Regions from separate parts of the Homo sapiens genome. Here region 1 is linked to region 2. A link means that fine-mapping ties the variant in region 2 to the expression of a gene that starts in the linked region. Tissue or cell type: whole blood. Region 2 holds a variant in brackets; the other region holds the start of a gene. All regions are shown on one strand. Distances are between the middles of the regions.

The links. PIP is the estimated chance that this variant, and not a neighbour inherited with it, causes the effect.
Region 1: CC2D1A starts here. The variant in region 2 is fine-mapped to the expression of CC2D1A in whole blood (TOPMed, PIP above 0.99). The same link has a PIP of 0.9 or more in lung.

The regions. Positions count from the first base shown.
Region 1 is chr19:13,903,327-13,908,692 of GRCh38, forward strand. It overlaps CC2D1A (coiled-coil and C2 domain containing 1A), which reads left to right and starts at 2,875. Exons shown (of 29, transcript NM_017721.5): 1 at 2,875-3,175. The coding sequence starts at 3,116. BRME1 (break repair meiotic recombinase recruitment factor 1) reads right to left here and starts at 2,791. Exons shown (of 9, transcript NM_001345843.2): 1 at 2,389-2,791; 2 at 1,536-1,587. The coding sequence starts at 1,566. RefSeq lists a silencer at 3,190-3,249.
Region 2 is chr19:13,924,243-13,929,608 of GRCh38, forward strand. It overlaps CC2D1A (coiled-coil and C2 domain containing 1A), which reads left to right. Exons shown (of 29, transcript NM_017721.5): 18 at 2,275-2,348; 19 at 2,425-2,483; 20 at 2,579-2,630; 21 at 2,736-2,835; 22 at 2,933-3,023; 23 at 3,651-3,788; 24 at 3,882-3,946; 25 at 5,137-5,200; 26 at 5,292-5,366. Among named protein-coding and RNA genes, the nearest start is that of PODNL1, 11 kb to the right of the region's middle. The variant C/T (reference allele first, on the strand shown) is at 2,713.

The DNA.
Region 1 (5,366 bases), 21 kb before region 2:
CTGGCCTCCACCCACTAGATGTCAGTATAATTTCCCCAGTTATGAAAACCAAAAAAAGTCTCTAGGCCGGGCACGGTGGCTCCCACCTGTAATCCCAGCACTTTGGGAGGCTGAGGCAGGCAGATCACCTGAGGTCAGGAGTTTGAGACCAGCCTGGCCAACATTGTGAAACCCTATCCCTACTAAAAATACAAAAATTAGGCGGGCGTGGTGGTGCACATCTGTAGTCCCAGCTACTTAGGAGGCTGAGGCTGCAGAATCGCTTGAACCCAGGAGGTGGAGGCTGCAGTGAGCCAAGATCTTGCTACTGCACTCCAGCCTGGACGACAGAGTCAGACTTGGTCTCCAAAAAAAAAAAAAATAAAGTCTCCAAACATTGCCAGCTGTCTCTGGAGGTCAAAATCCCTTCCTCTCACCTAGTTGAGAAACACTGCTCTAAAGGAAAGGGTAGTGGCTTTTATTATCCCCAATTTACAAAAGGGGAAACTGTGGCACAGAGGAAATCATCCACCACCACACACTGAGCAGAACTGGGATGAACCCAGGTTTTGGGCCCCAGAGTAAAACACTCAGCCACATACCGAGTGGCCTTGTAGTACATCAAGCATTATTCCAGGGGTCATCTCTGGGACTGGTTCCGCAGGGAGGCTGTCCCGCTGCCCTGAAGCCCGGGGAGGCCTCCTCTAAGCTGTGGGACCCCACCAGAGGCTTGCAGAAGCTCCAGAAAACTTTCACTTTTACTTTTCCTGTATGCCCTCTCCGTTATTTCTATTTTTCTTTCTTTCTTTTTTTTTTTGAGACAGGGCCTCAATCTATCAGTCAGGATGGAGTGCAGTGGTACGATCTGGATTCACTGCAACCTCCACCTCCCAGTTCAAGCAATCTTCCTGCCTCAACCTCCTGAGTAGCTGGGACTACAGGTGCCTGCCACCACGCCCAGCTAATTTCCTTACTTTACATTGTAGAGACAGGATCTCGCTATGTTGCCCAGGCTGGTCTTGAACTCCTGGACTCAAGCGATCCGCCCACCTCGGCCTCCCAAAGTGCTAGGATTACAGGCGTGAGCCACCACACCGGCCTTCTATTTTTCTTACCAGCATGAATTAAATCCTTTTTGTCTTTTTCTTTTTTTTGAGACAGAGTCTTGCTCTGTTGCCCAGGCTAGAGTGCAGTGGCACCATCTTGGCTCACTGCAACATCGGACTCCCAGGTTCAAACGATTCTCCTGCCTCAGTCTCCCGAGTAGGTGGGACTACAGGCATGTGCCACAACACCTGGCTAATTTTTGTATTTTTAGTAGAGACGGGGTTTCACCATGTTGGTCAGGCTGGTCTTGAACTCCTGACCTTGTGATCTGCCCGCCTCGGCCTCCCAAAGTGCTGAGATTACAGGTGTGAGCCACCGCACCCGGCCAATCCTTGCTTCCTTTTAAGGAGGTTAAGGCAGTCGTGTTAGCCAGATCTGCAATAAACAAGCCCACATTCTTCCCACAAGCAGAAGCAGAAATCAACAAGTGTCCATTTGAATGAACGTACCTGAGGTCCGCAGCTTCTTCCTCTTAGTCATTTTATCTTCCCCTTGAGAAATCTGAAAACAAGCAAAATCTCTCATCATTATAAGCAGTCTCTGTCTCTGTTTATATCCAGTGGCTTTGGCTGAGAGCAGAGGTTACCCCTACCTCCACCTCAGCCCATTTGGCTGCCCCAGGGGTCAGATGGCTCCCACTGGGACACAGGATGGGACACAGAGTCACAGCCACTTTGGGCCATGGCCAGGTAGGAATTCAAACCTCCTCCAAACTGAAGATCTTATGCCCAGGACCTGAAAGACAAATGGGCCCTGGGGGGTCCTTATAGATAGCCCCGGGGACCCAGACTCTGGTCCCTAGGATGAAACAGCCTGTGTGAAGCCCCTCCCTCCAGACTGGGGTATCTGGGGGCCCTTCCAAGGACACTTGAGGACTCTCCAGGGGCCTCTGGAGACCAGCCTGGCCAATATGGTGAAACCCCCTCTCTATTAAAAACACAAAAATTAGCCTGGGCATCGTGACGCACACCTGTAATCCCAGCTACTTGGGAGGCTGAGACAGTAGAATTCCTTGAACCCATGAGGCAGAGGTTGCAGTGAGCCGAGATCGCTCTACTGCACTCCAGCCTGGGCGACAGAGCGAGACTCCGTCTCAAAAAAAAAAAAAAAAATTAGTCAGGTGCGGTGGCACACACCCGTAATCCCAGCTACTCAGGAGGCTGTGGTACAAGGCCAGGAGGCAGAGGTTGCAATGAGCCAAGATCGTGCCACTTTAAAGGGGACAGCTGGGTCCTTGGAGGGGAAAGAGCTGCCATAGGCCGGTTTCTCCCAGCCTTGGGGGCGAGGCAAACCAGAACGGACCTGGGCCACAGAAGTCGTTGAGGACCCTCTGTCCTTATCAGAAACGAGCTCTGCCTGGATCAGTTGGGAATAAGTCGCTTGAATTATCCGCGTTACTCTTTTTGGAAAAAATAAATGGCCAAATTGGCCCTCACAGAACGCTGGAGGCCTCGAGTCCGGAGGTGAAAGATGGAAAGGCCTGAGGGTGGGCGCTGTAGACCCCGCTCCCGGTGACAAGCCCCACACTGACACTACGCCGACCACCGAGAAGTGAGGACTCCACAGGCCGAGAGCCCACGTGAAGCCGGAGCCCGTCGGTGACTGACAGACGCTCTGAACCCCACAGATGTCGCCGCCCCTCACACCTGCGCGCGCTCTGCCTCTTTCCCGCGCCCCGCGAGGTCCCGCCCCGCGCATGAGCGACGCAAACACCGCCCTCGCAGCCCGCGACAGTCAGCACCGCCCCAGCCAGGCGCCTGCGCGCCCACGCACTACCTGCCGGGAGTTGTAGTTTCGGCTCGGCAGACCCGGCGAGCCCAGTGGCCGCGCTCCGGTGCGGCGGCGCCCGAGGCCCGAGGCGGAAGTGGGACGGCCAAGCAGGGAAGCGAGGGCTCGGGATCGACGGCCGCGGGGCGCCGACGAGGAGTGCAGGACTCAGGAAGGGCGAGTGCGCGGCGACAGAGCCCGGGGAAGGAGGCAGGGCAAGGCCGGGCTTGGGGGCAGGTGGTCCGGGCATCCAGCCTTGAAGATGCACAAGAGGAAAGGACCCCCGGGACCCCCGGGCAGAGGCGCCGCGGCCGCCCGCCAGGTGAGTTTGCGCCCCACGGCCCGACCTGGGGATCCCTCCCCACCCCCGTCACTCGCTCAGGGAAGGGCCCCACCCCCCAGGGAAGCCCGATCTCCGCCCCACAGGTAAGCCCCGGTCCCCGCCTCCCCCCAGGTGAGGCTCCAACACCACCCAAGTGTGGCCTACTGGCCTTGGCTCCCCAGCTCCTGGGGCCCTGCCCCGGGTTCGGGGCCACCTGTTGCCACAGCTGCTCCAGTCGAGGAGGGGCAGTCCTCGGACTTGACACATCAAACCCTTGCATCAGTCGGGCCATGTCAGACTCTTTTTATTCCATTGTACAGATGAGGACTTTGAGACTCAGAGACGTGAAGACATCTGCCCAAGGTCATAGGGATTAACAGCTTGGCCAGGGCTAAGCACAAATCCAGGGCTGCAGCCATAAGCTTATGGCACTGTGGCTGGACCCCTTCTCACTCTCCCGACTTCTTTGCCCCAGGCACCAGATAGTTTGATTTTTCTCAGTTTTGATGGAAGGAGCCCAGGACATAGCTTGGTGTTCAGATATTAGAGTCTGGCTGACCTGAAGTTCCCTCCTGGCCTCTGTACATCGGACACTTGACTTTACAGCTCTGAGCCTCAGCTTTCTCATCTGTAAAATGGAGATCTCTATAATCCCAGCACTTCAGGAGATGGAGGCGGAGGCAGAGGTGGGAGAGTCATTTGAGGCCAGAGTTTGAGACCAGCCTGGGCAAAAGCAAGACCCCCGTCTCGACAAAAAAAGACTAACTGGGCATGGTGGCATGTGCCTGTAGTACTACTACTTGGGAGGCTAAGAAGGGAGGATTGCTTGAGCCCAGGAGTTCAAGACCGCAGTGAGCTATGATTGCGCTACTTCTGCTCCAGCCTGGGTGACAGAACAAGACTCTTTCTCTAAAATAAAGATAAAAAATTAAAAATGGAAGTCCGGGGTGGTGTCTCACACCTGTAATCCCAGCACTTTGGGAGGCCATGGCGAAACCCCATCTCTACTAAAAATACAAAAATTAGCTGGGCATGGTGGCGGGCACCTGTAATCCCAGCTACTCGGGAGGCTGAGGTGGGAGAATCGCTTGAACCGAGAGGCGGAGGTTGCAGTGAGCTGAGATCGCGCCACTGCATTCCAGACTGGGTGACAGAGCAAGGCTCCTTCTCAAAATAAATAAATAAATTCCTTCTGAAAATAAATAAATAAATAAAAAATTAAAAATGGAGACCTCCAAGAGACCCTACATTACAGGACAGTTGTAGAGAGTCATTGAGATAGTTTATGGAAAGTGCTAGAACATAGCACTCAATAAATGTTACTATTATCATTATTACTAGTTGGTGGAACCATACATAATTGCCAATATTTGGCCATTTTTTACCTACAGGAAAGGCAATTTCATATGGTTAAACACGATGTTATCACATCATGATTGGTCATTAGCCAAGATAGGAAGACGGGTCTGCATGGCAAACCTGCATTGTGGTTAGGGGTTCTTTTTTTGTTTGTTTGTTTTTGAGACAGAGTCTTGCTCTCTCGCCCCAGGCTGGAGTGCAGTGGCGCAATCTCGGCCCACTGCAACCTCCGCTTCCCGGGTTCAAGCGATTCTCCTGCCTCAGCCTCCCGAGTAGCTGGGATTACAGGCATGCGCCACCATGCCTGGTTAATTTTGTATTTTTTAGTAGAGACGGGGTTTCTCCCTGTTGGTCAGGCTGGTCTGTCTCGAACTCCCCATCTCAGGTGACCCGCCTGCCTCGGCCTCCCAAAGTGCTGGGGTTACAGGCGTGAGCCACCGTGCCCGGCCTAATTTTTGTATTTTTAGTAGTGATGGGATTTCACCATGTTGGCCAGGCTAGTCTCGAACTGCTGACCTCAGGTGATCCCCCCACCTTGGTCTCCCAAAGTGCTGGGATTACAAGCGTGAGCCACTGCACCTGGCCCTGTCGTCAGGGCTTCTAATTGCTCTTCTTTTTTTTTTGGAGACAGAGTCTTGCTCTGTTGCCCAGGCTGGAGTTTGGTGGCGCAATCTCAGCTCACTGCAACCTCCACCTCCCAGGTTCAAGCAATTCTCCTGCCTCAGCCTCCCGAGTAGCTGGGATTGCAGACACCGCCAGCACTCCCAGCTAATTTTTGTATTTTTAGTAGAGACGGGGTTTCACCATGTTGGCTAGGCTGGTCTCGAACTCC
Region 2 (5,366 bases):
TCACTGCAAGCTCCACCTCCTGGATTCATGCCATTCTCCTGCCTCAGCCTCCCGAGAAGCTGGGACTACAGCCGCCCACCACCACGCCTGGCTAATTTTTTGTATTTTTAGTAGAGACGGGATTTCACCGTGTTAGCCAGGATGGTCTCGATCTCTTGACCTCGTGATCCGCCCACCTCGGCCTCCCAAAGTGCTGGGATTACAGGCGTGAGCCACCACTCCCGGCCTTTTTTAAAATTTTTTTTCTGAGACAGTCTCACTTTGTCACCCAGGCGGGAGTACAGTGGCGCAATCTCAGCTCACTTCAACCTCTGCCTCCCAGGTTCAAGCAATTCTCCTGCCTCAGCCTCCCAAATAGCTGGGACTACAGGTGCCCACCACCATGCCCAGCTAATTTTTGTATTTTTAGTAGAGACGGGGTTTCATTCAGTTGGCCAGGCTGGTCTCCTTAAATGATCCGCCTGCCTTGGCCTCCCAAAATTCTGGGGTTACAGGAGTGAGCCACTGCGTCCGGCCCATTTTCTCCACTTTCTAAATGAGGTTAGGTGCAGCCACTAGCCCTCCGGTGGTTCCCAGCTGCCCTTGGGATAACCCCCACCCCTTACCCTGGCTCCCCCATCTCCACACAGCCTGGCTCCTTGTCACCTCTTCTCTGCCTCCTGTCCCCGCTTCACTCAGCTTTGGCCACAAGGGACTCTTTTTGGTCCCTCCTACAAACAAAGTGTGTTCCTACCCCAAGCCTCTGCATCAGCTATTTCTTCCGCCTTCACCCTCTTCCTCAGGTCTCCATGTGGCAGCTCCCTCTTGACATCTAGAGTCACCTATGATGTCACCTTCCCTCTAAGAGGCCCTCCCTATCTATCCGAGCAGTCTCTTCTGAGCACACTCCACTCTCCCCTCTCTGCTGAGTTTTTTATTGTTTTTCTATTTATGTACTTATGCTCATCTGTCCACTCAGCTAGATTGAGCACAGGGTATGGGTATTTACTTCTAGATCCCCAGCAGCTAGGGTACTGACTGGCACATAGTAGGTGCTCAAGAAATATTGTGAAATGAGGCCAGGCGTGCTGGCTCACGCCTGTAATCCCAGCACTTTGGGAGGCTGAGGTGGGTGGATCACGAGGTCAGGAGATCGAGACCATTCTGGCTAACATGGTGAAATCCCGTCTCTACTAAAAATACACAAAATTATCCGGGCGTGGTGGTAGGCGCCCATAGTCCCACCTTCTTAGGAGGCTGAGGCAGGAGAATGGCATGAACCTGGGAGGCAGAGCTTGCAGTGAGCAGAGATCGCACTGCACTCCAGCCTGGGCGACAGAGTGAGACTGTCTCAAAAAAAAAAGAAATATTGTGAAATGAATAGAAGGTCCCCCAGCAACTAGGACACTAGCTGGTGCTTTAATAGGACTCAAAAAATATTAAGTGAGGCCAGGCTGGGAGGCCAAGGCAGGCGGATCATTTGAGGTCGGGAGTTCGAGACCAGCCTGGCCAACATGGTGAAACCCCATCTCTACTAAAAATATAAAAATTATCCAGCAGTGGTGGCGGGCAGCTGTAATCCCAGCTACTCAGGAGGCTGAGGCAGAAGAATCTCTTGAATCTGGGAGGTGGAGGTTGCAGTGGGCTGAGGTCGTACCATTGTACTCCAGCCTGGGCGACAGAGCAAGACTCTGTCTAAAAAAAAAAAAAAAATATATATATATATATATATATATATACACGTATATATATGTGTATATATATATACATATATGTGTGTATATATATATATACGTATATATATGTGTATATATATATATATACACGTATATATATGTATATATACACACACACACACACACACACATATATATTAAGTGAAAAGAAGGTCCCCCAGCAGCTGGGGTACTGGCTGGCACATAGTAGGTGCTCAAGAAACATTGGGAAATGAAGGAAAGATCTCCCAGCAGCTAGGGCACTGGCTGATGCTTAGTAGGACTCAACAACTGTTAAGTGAAGGGAATATCACCCAGCAGCTAGGGTACCTAGCACACAGTAGATACCAAATAAATATACACAGACTGAAGAAAAGACTCGAAAGTGATCCATTGCCAACCTGAACAGAGAACTCTAGTCTGTCTGATTCTAAAATGAGCCCAGGAGCTGAGACACCCCCGAAGGCCAGGGTGGGGTTTGTTCCCTGCCCCCACTGGGGGAAGAGAAGGCAGGCGGGCAGTGGGACTGAGGTGCCTCTGTTTCCCTGCCCACCTGCCTGCCCACCTGCCCACCCGGAAGGATCTTCCCTGACCTCAGCAGCAACGACATGCTCCTCTTCATCGTGAAGGGCATCAACTTGCCCACACCCCCAGGTGAGGGGGCTGTAGGCAAGGGTCAGGGTCATGGGGACCCCCTCTCTGCCCAGCTCTGACCGTTGTTTGCCCACAGGACTGTCCCCTGGCGATCTGGATGTCTTTGTTCGGTTTGACTTCCCCTATCCCAACGTGGTACGTGGGGAGCTGAGGAGGGGAGGGCTGCAGCCTCAGTGGGCCAAAGCCAGGTCCCAGGCCCCCTAGATTTCCTGCCTCCTCTCTGGTCATAGGAAGAAGCTCAGAAAGACAAGACCAGTGTGATCAAGAACACAGACTCCCCTGGTGAGCCTCGGCTGGAAGCACCCTACCCCTACTCCCTTGCAGCAGAAGGGACATAAGACAATGGCCTGACCCCACCCAACTT[C/T]CTCTCCCTCCTTCCTCCTGCAGAGTTCAAGGAGCAGTTCAAACTCTGCATCAACCGCAGCCACCGTGGCTTCCGAAGGGCCATCCAGACCAAGGGCATCAAGTTCGAAGTGGTTCACAAGGGGTGAGCTAGAGAGAGCCATGGCCGCTGGGTGGGCTCCAGGGGAGGGGAGCTCCTCTGAACCAACCATCCTGTCCCCACTATACACACATGCACACAGGGGGCTGTTCAAGACTGACCGGGTGCTGGGGACAGCCCAGCTGAAGCTGGATGCACTGGAGATAGCATGTGAGGTCCGGGAGATCCTTGAGGTGAGAGGTGGACATTCATCCGCGTGCTCCGGTATGGCCATGCTACTCGTTAACATTATTAAAACACTTCCTGCCTTGAGCCCTCTATGAGCCTGTCTGTTGACCCAGCCCCTCCCCTCAGAGCCTCAGACCTCCCTACTGCCCAGCCCTAAATACTTGCAGTACCCCACTCCATTATGATCAACTGGTATCTCAGCCATACCATGGGCTCATATTTTAGAAACCACTCTTGGCCAGGCATGGTGGCTCATGCCTGTAATCCCAGCACTTTGGGAGGCTGAGGCGGGCAGATCACGAGGTCAGGAGATCGAGACCATCCTGGCTAACATGGTGAAACCCTGTTTCTACTAAAATACAAAAAAATTAGCCAGGCATGGTGGCGGGCGCCTGTAGTCCCAGCTACTCGGGAGGCTGAGGCAGGAGAATGGCGTAAGTAAACCCAGGAGGCGGAGCTTGCAGTGAGCCCAGATTGCACCACTGCACTCCAGCCTGGACAACAGAGCGAGACTCTATCTCAGAAAAAAAAAAAACCAAAAAAAAAAACCAGTCTTGTTCTCCCTTGTCCTGGCCCTGGGCCTCTAGTCACTTCCTGCTTCCCACCAACAGTTTCTCCTTACCCCCACCCAGGTCCTGGATGGTCGCCGGCCCACAGGGGGGCGACTGGAGGTAATGGTCCGGATTCGGGAGCCACTGACAGCCCAGCAGTTGGAGACGACGACAGAGAGGTGGCTGGTCATTGACCCTGTGCCGGCAGCTGTGCCCACAGTGAGACCCCCCACCCCCACCCATCAGCAACCCCAGGGAGGGAAGCTTGGTTCAGGGGCCCAGGACTCACAGGACTGGTTCTCTCCTCTGAAGCAGGTTGCTGGGCCCAAAGGGAAGGCCCCTCCTGTGCCTGCCCCTGCAAGGGAGTCAGGGAACAGGTAGGTATCTGGGCCAGGGCATGCTGGAGAAAACACCCAATTCCCCTCTCAGCCCCACCTGGACAGTTTCCCACCAGGCACAAATTGGACCACGTCCCTCTCCTGCTGCAAAACCTTTCTTGGCACCCCTTTTCCCAGAGGATCCAGTTTAAACTCCTTGGTTTGGTCTTTAAAACCTTTTGTGATCTGACCATTGTCAACATATCCAGGCTTCTCTCTCCCTACTCCCTCCTGTGGTTCATGTCCATGAATAGTTTTCACTGGCCTCTGGACTTCTGTGGGTTCCAGTGCCCTGAACACCCCTACCTAGGGTAGGGGTGTTCCTTGTTCCTCTGCCCACCTCTGATTCCTTCTTTGGATCCCAACTTGGCTGTTACCTCCTCCAGGAAGCCCTCCCTGACCACTAGGCATCATAGTTTCCTGGGTGTGCAGCCATCATCCCCGCTAGGTTTTGGGATCAGTAACACCGGGTGGTTCTCGGCTGTCTCCCACCATACCCCCAGTGCCCAGTGTGTCTTTTTTTTTTTTTTTTTTTTTTGAGACAGAGTCTAGCTCTGTCGCCCAGGCTAGAGTGCAATGGCGCGATCTCAGCTCACAGCAACCTCCGCCTCTGGGGTTCAAGCGATTCTCCTGCCTCAGCCTCCTGAGTAGCTGGGATTACAGGCATGCGCCACCACACCCAGCTAATTTTTCTATTTTTAGTAGAGATGGGGTTTCTCCATGTTGGTCAGGCTGGTCTCGAACTCCCGACCTCAGGTGATCTGCCTGCCTCGGCCTCCCAAAGTGCTGGGATTACAGGCATGAGCTACCATGCTCGGCTTTTTTTTTTTTTTGAGACAGAATCTTGCTCTGTCACCCAGGTTGGAGTGCAGTGGTGTGATCTCGGCTCATTGCAACCTCCAGCTCCCAGGTTCAAGCAATTCTTCTGCCTCAGCCTCCCAAGTAGCTGGGACTACAGGAGCACACCACCATGCCCAGCTAATTTTTTTTCTATTTTTAGTAGAGACGGGGTTTCACCATATTGGCCAGGCTGGTCTCGAACTCCTGACCTCATGATCCACTCACCTCCGCCTCCCAAAGTGCAGGGATTACAGGCGTGAGCCACTGTGCCCAGCCCAGTGTGTCTTTTGAATTAACAGGGTTGGGCTGGGGGAATCTCTGCAGTCCCTTATCCTTCCTCCACCCCTTAGATCAGCCCGGCCCCTGCATAGCCTCAGTGTGCTGGCGTTTGACCAAGAGCGTCTGGAGCGGAAGGTGGGTATCCATCCTGCCGGGCTACATGGGGCAGGACTGGGGAGTCTGCAGGCCCAGGCAGGATCCTCACAGGACCCTCTGTATCCTCTAGATCCTGGCCCTCAGGCAGGCGCGGCGGCCGGTGCCCCCAGAAGTGGCCCAGCAGTACCAGGACATCATGCAACGC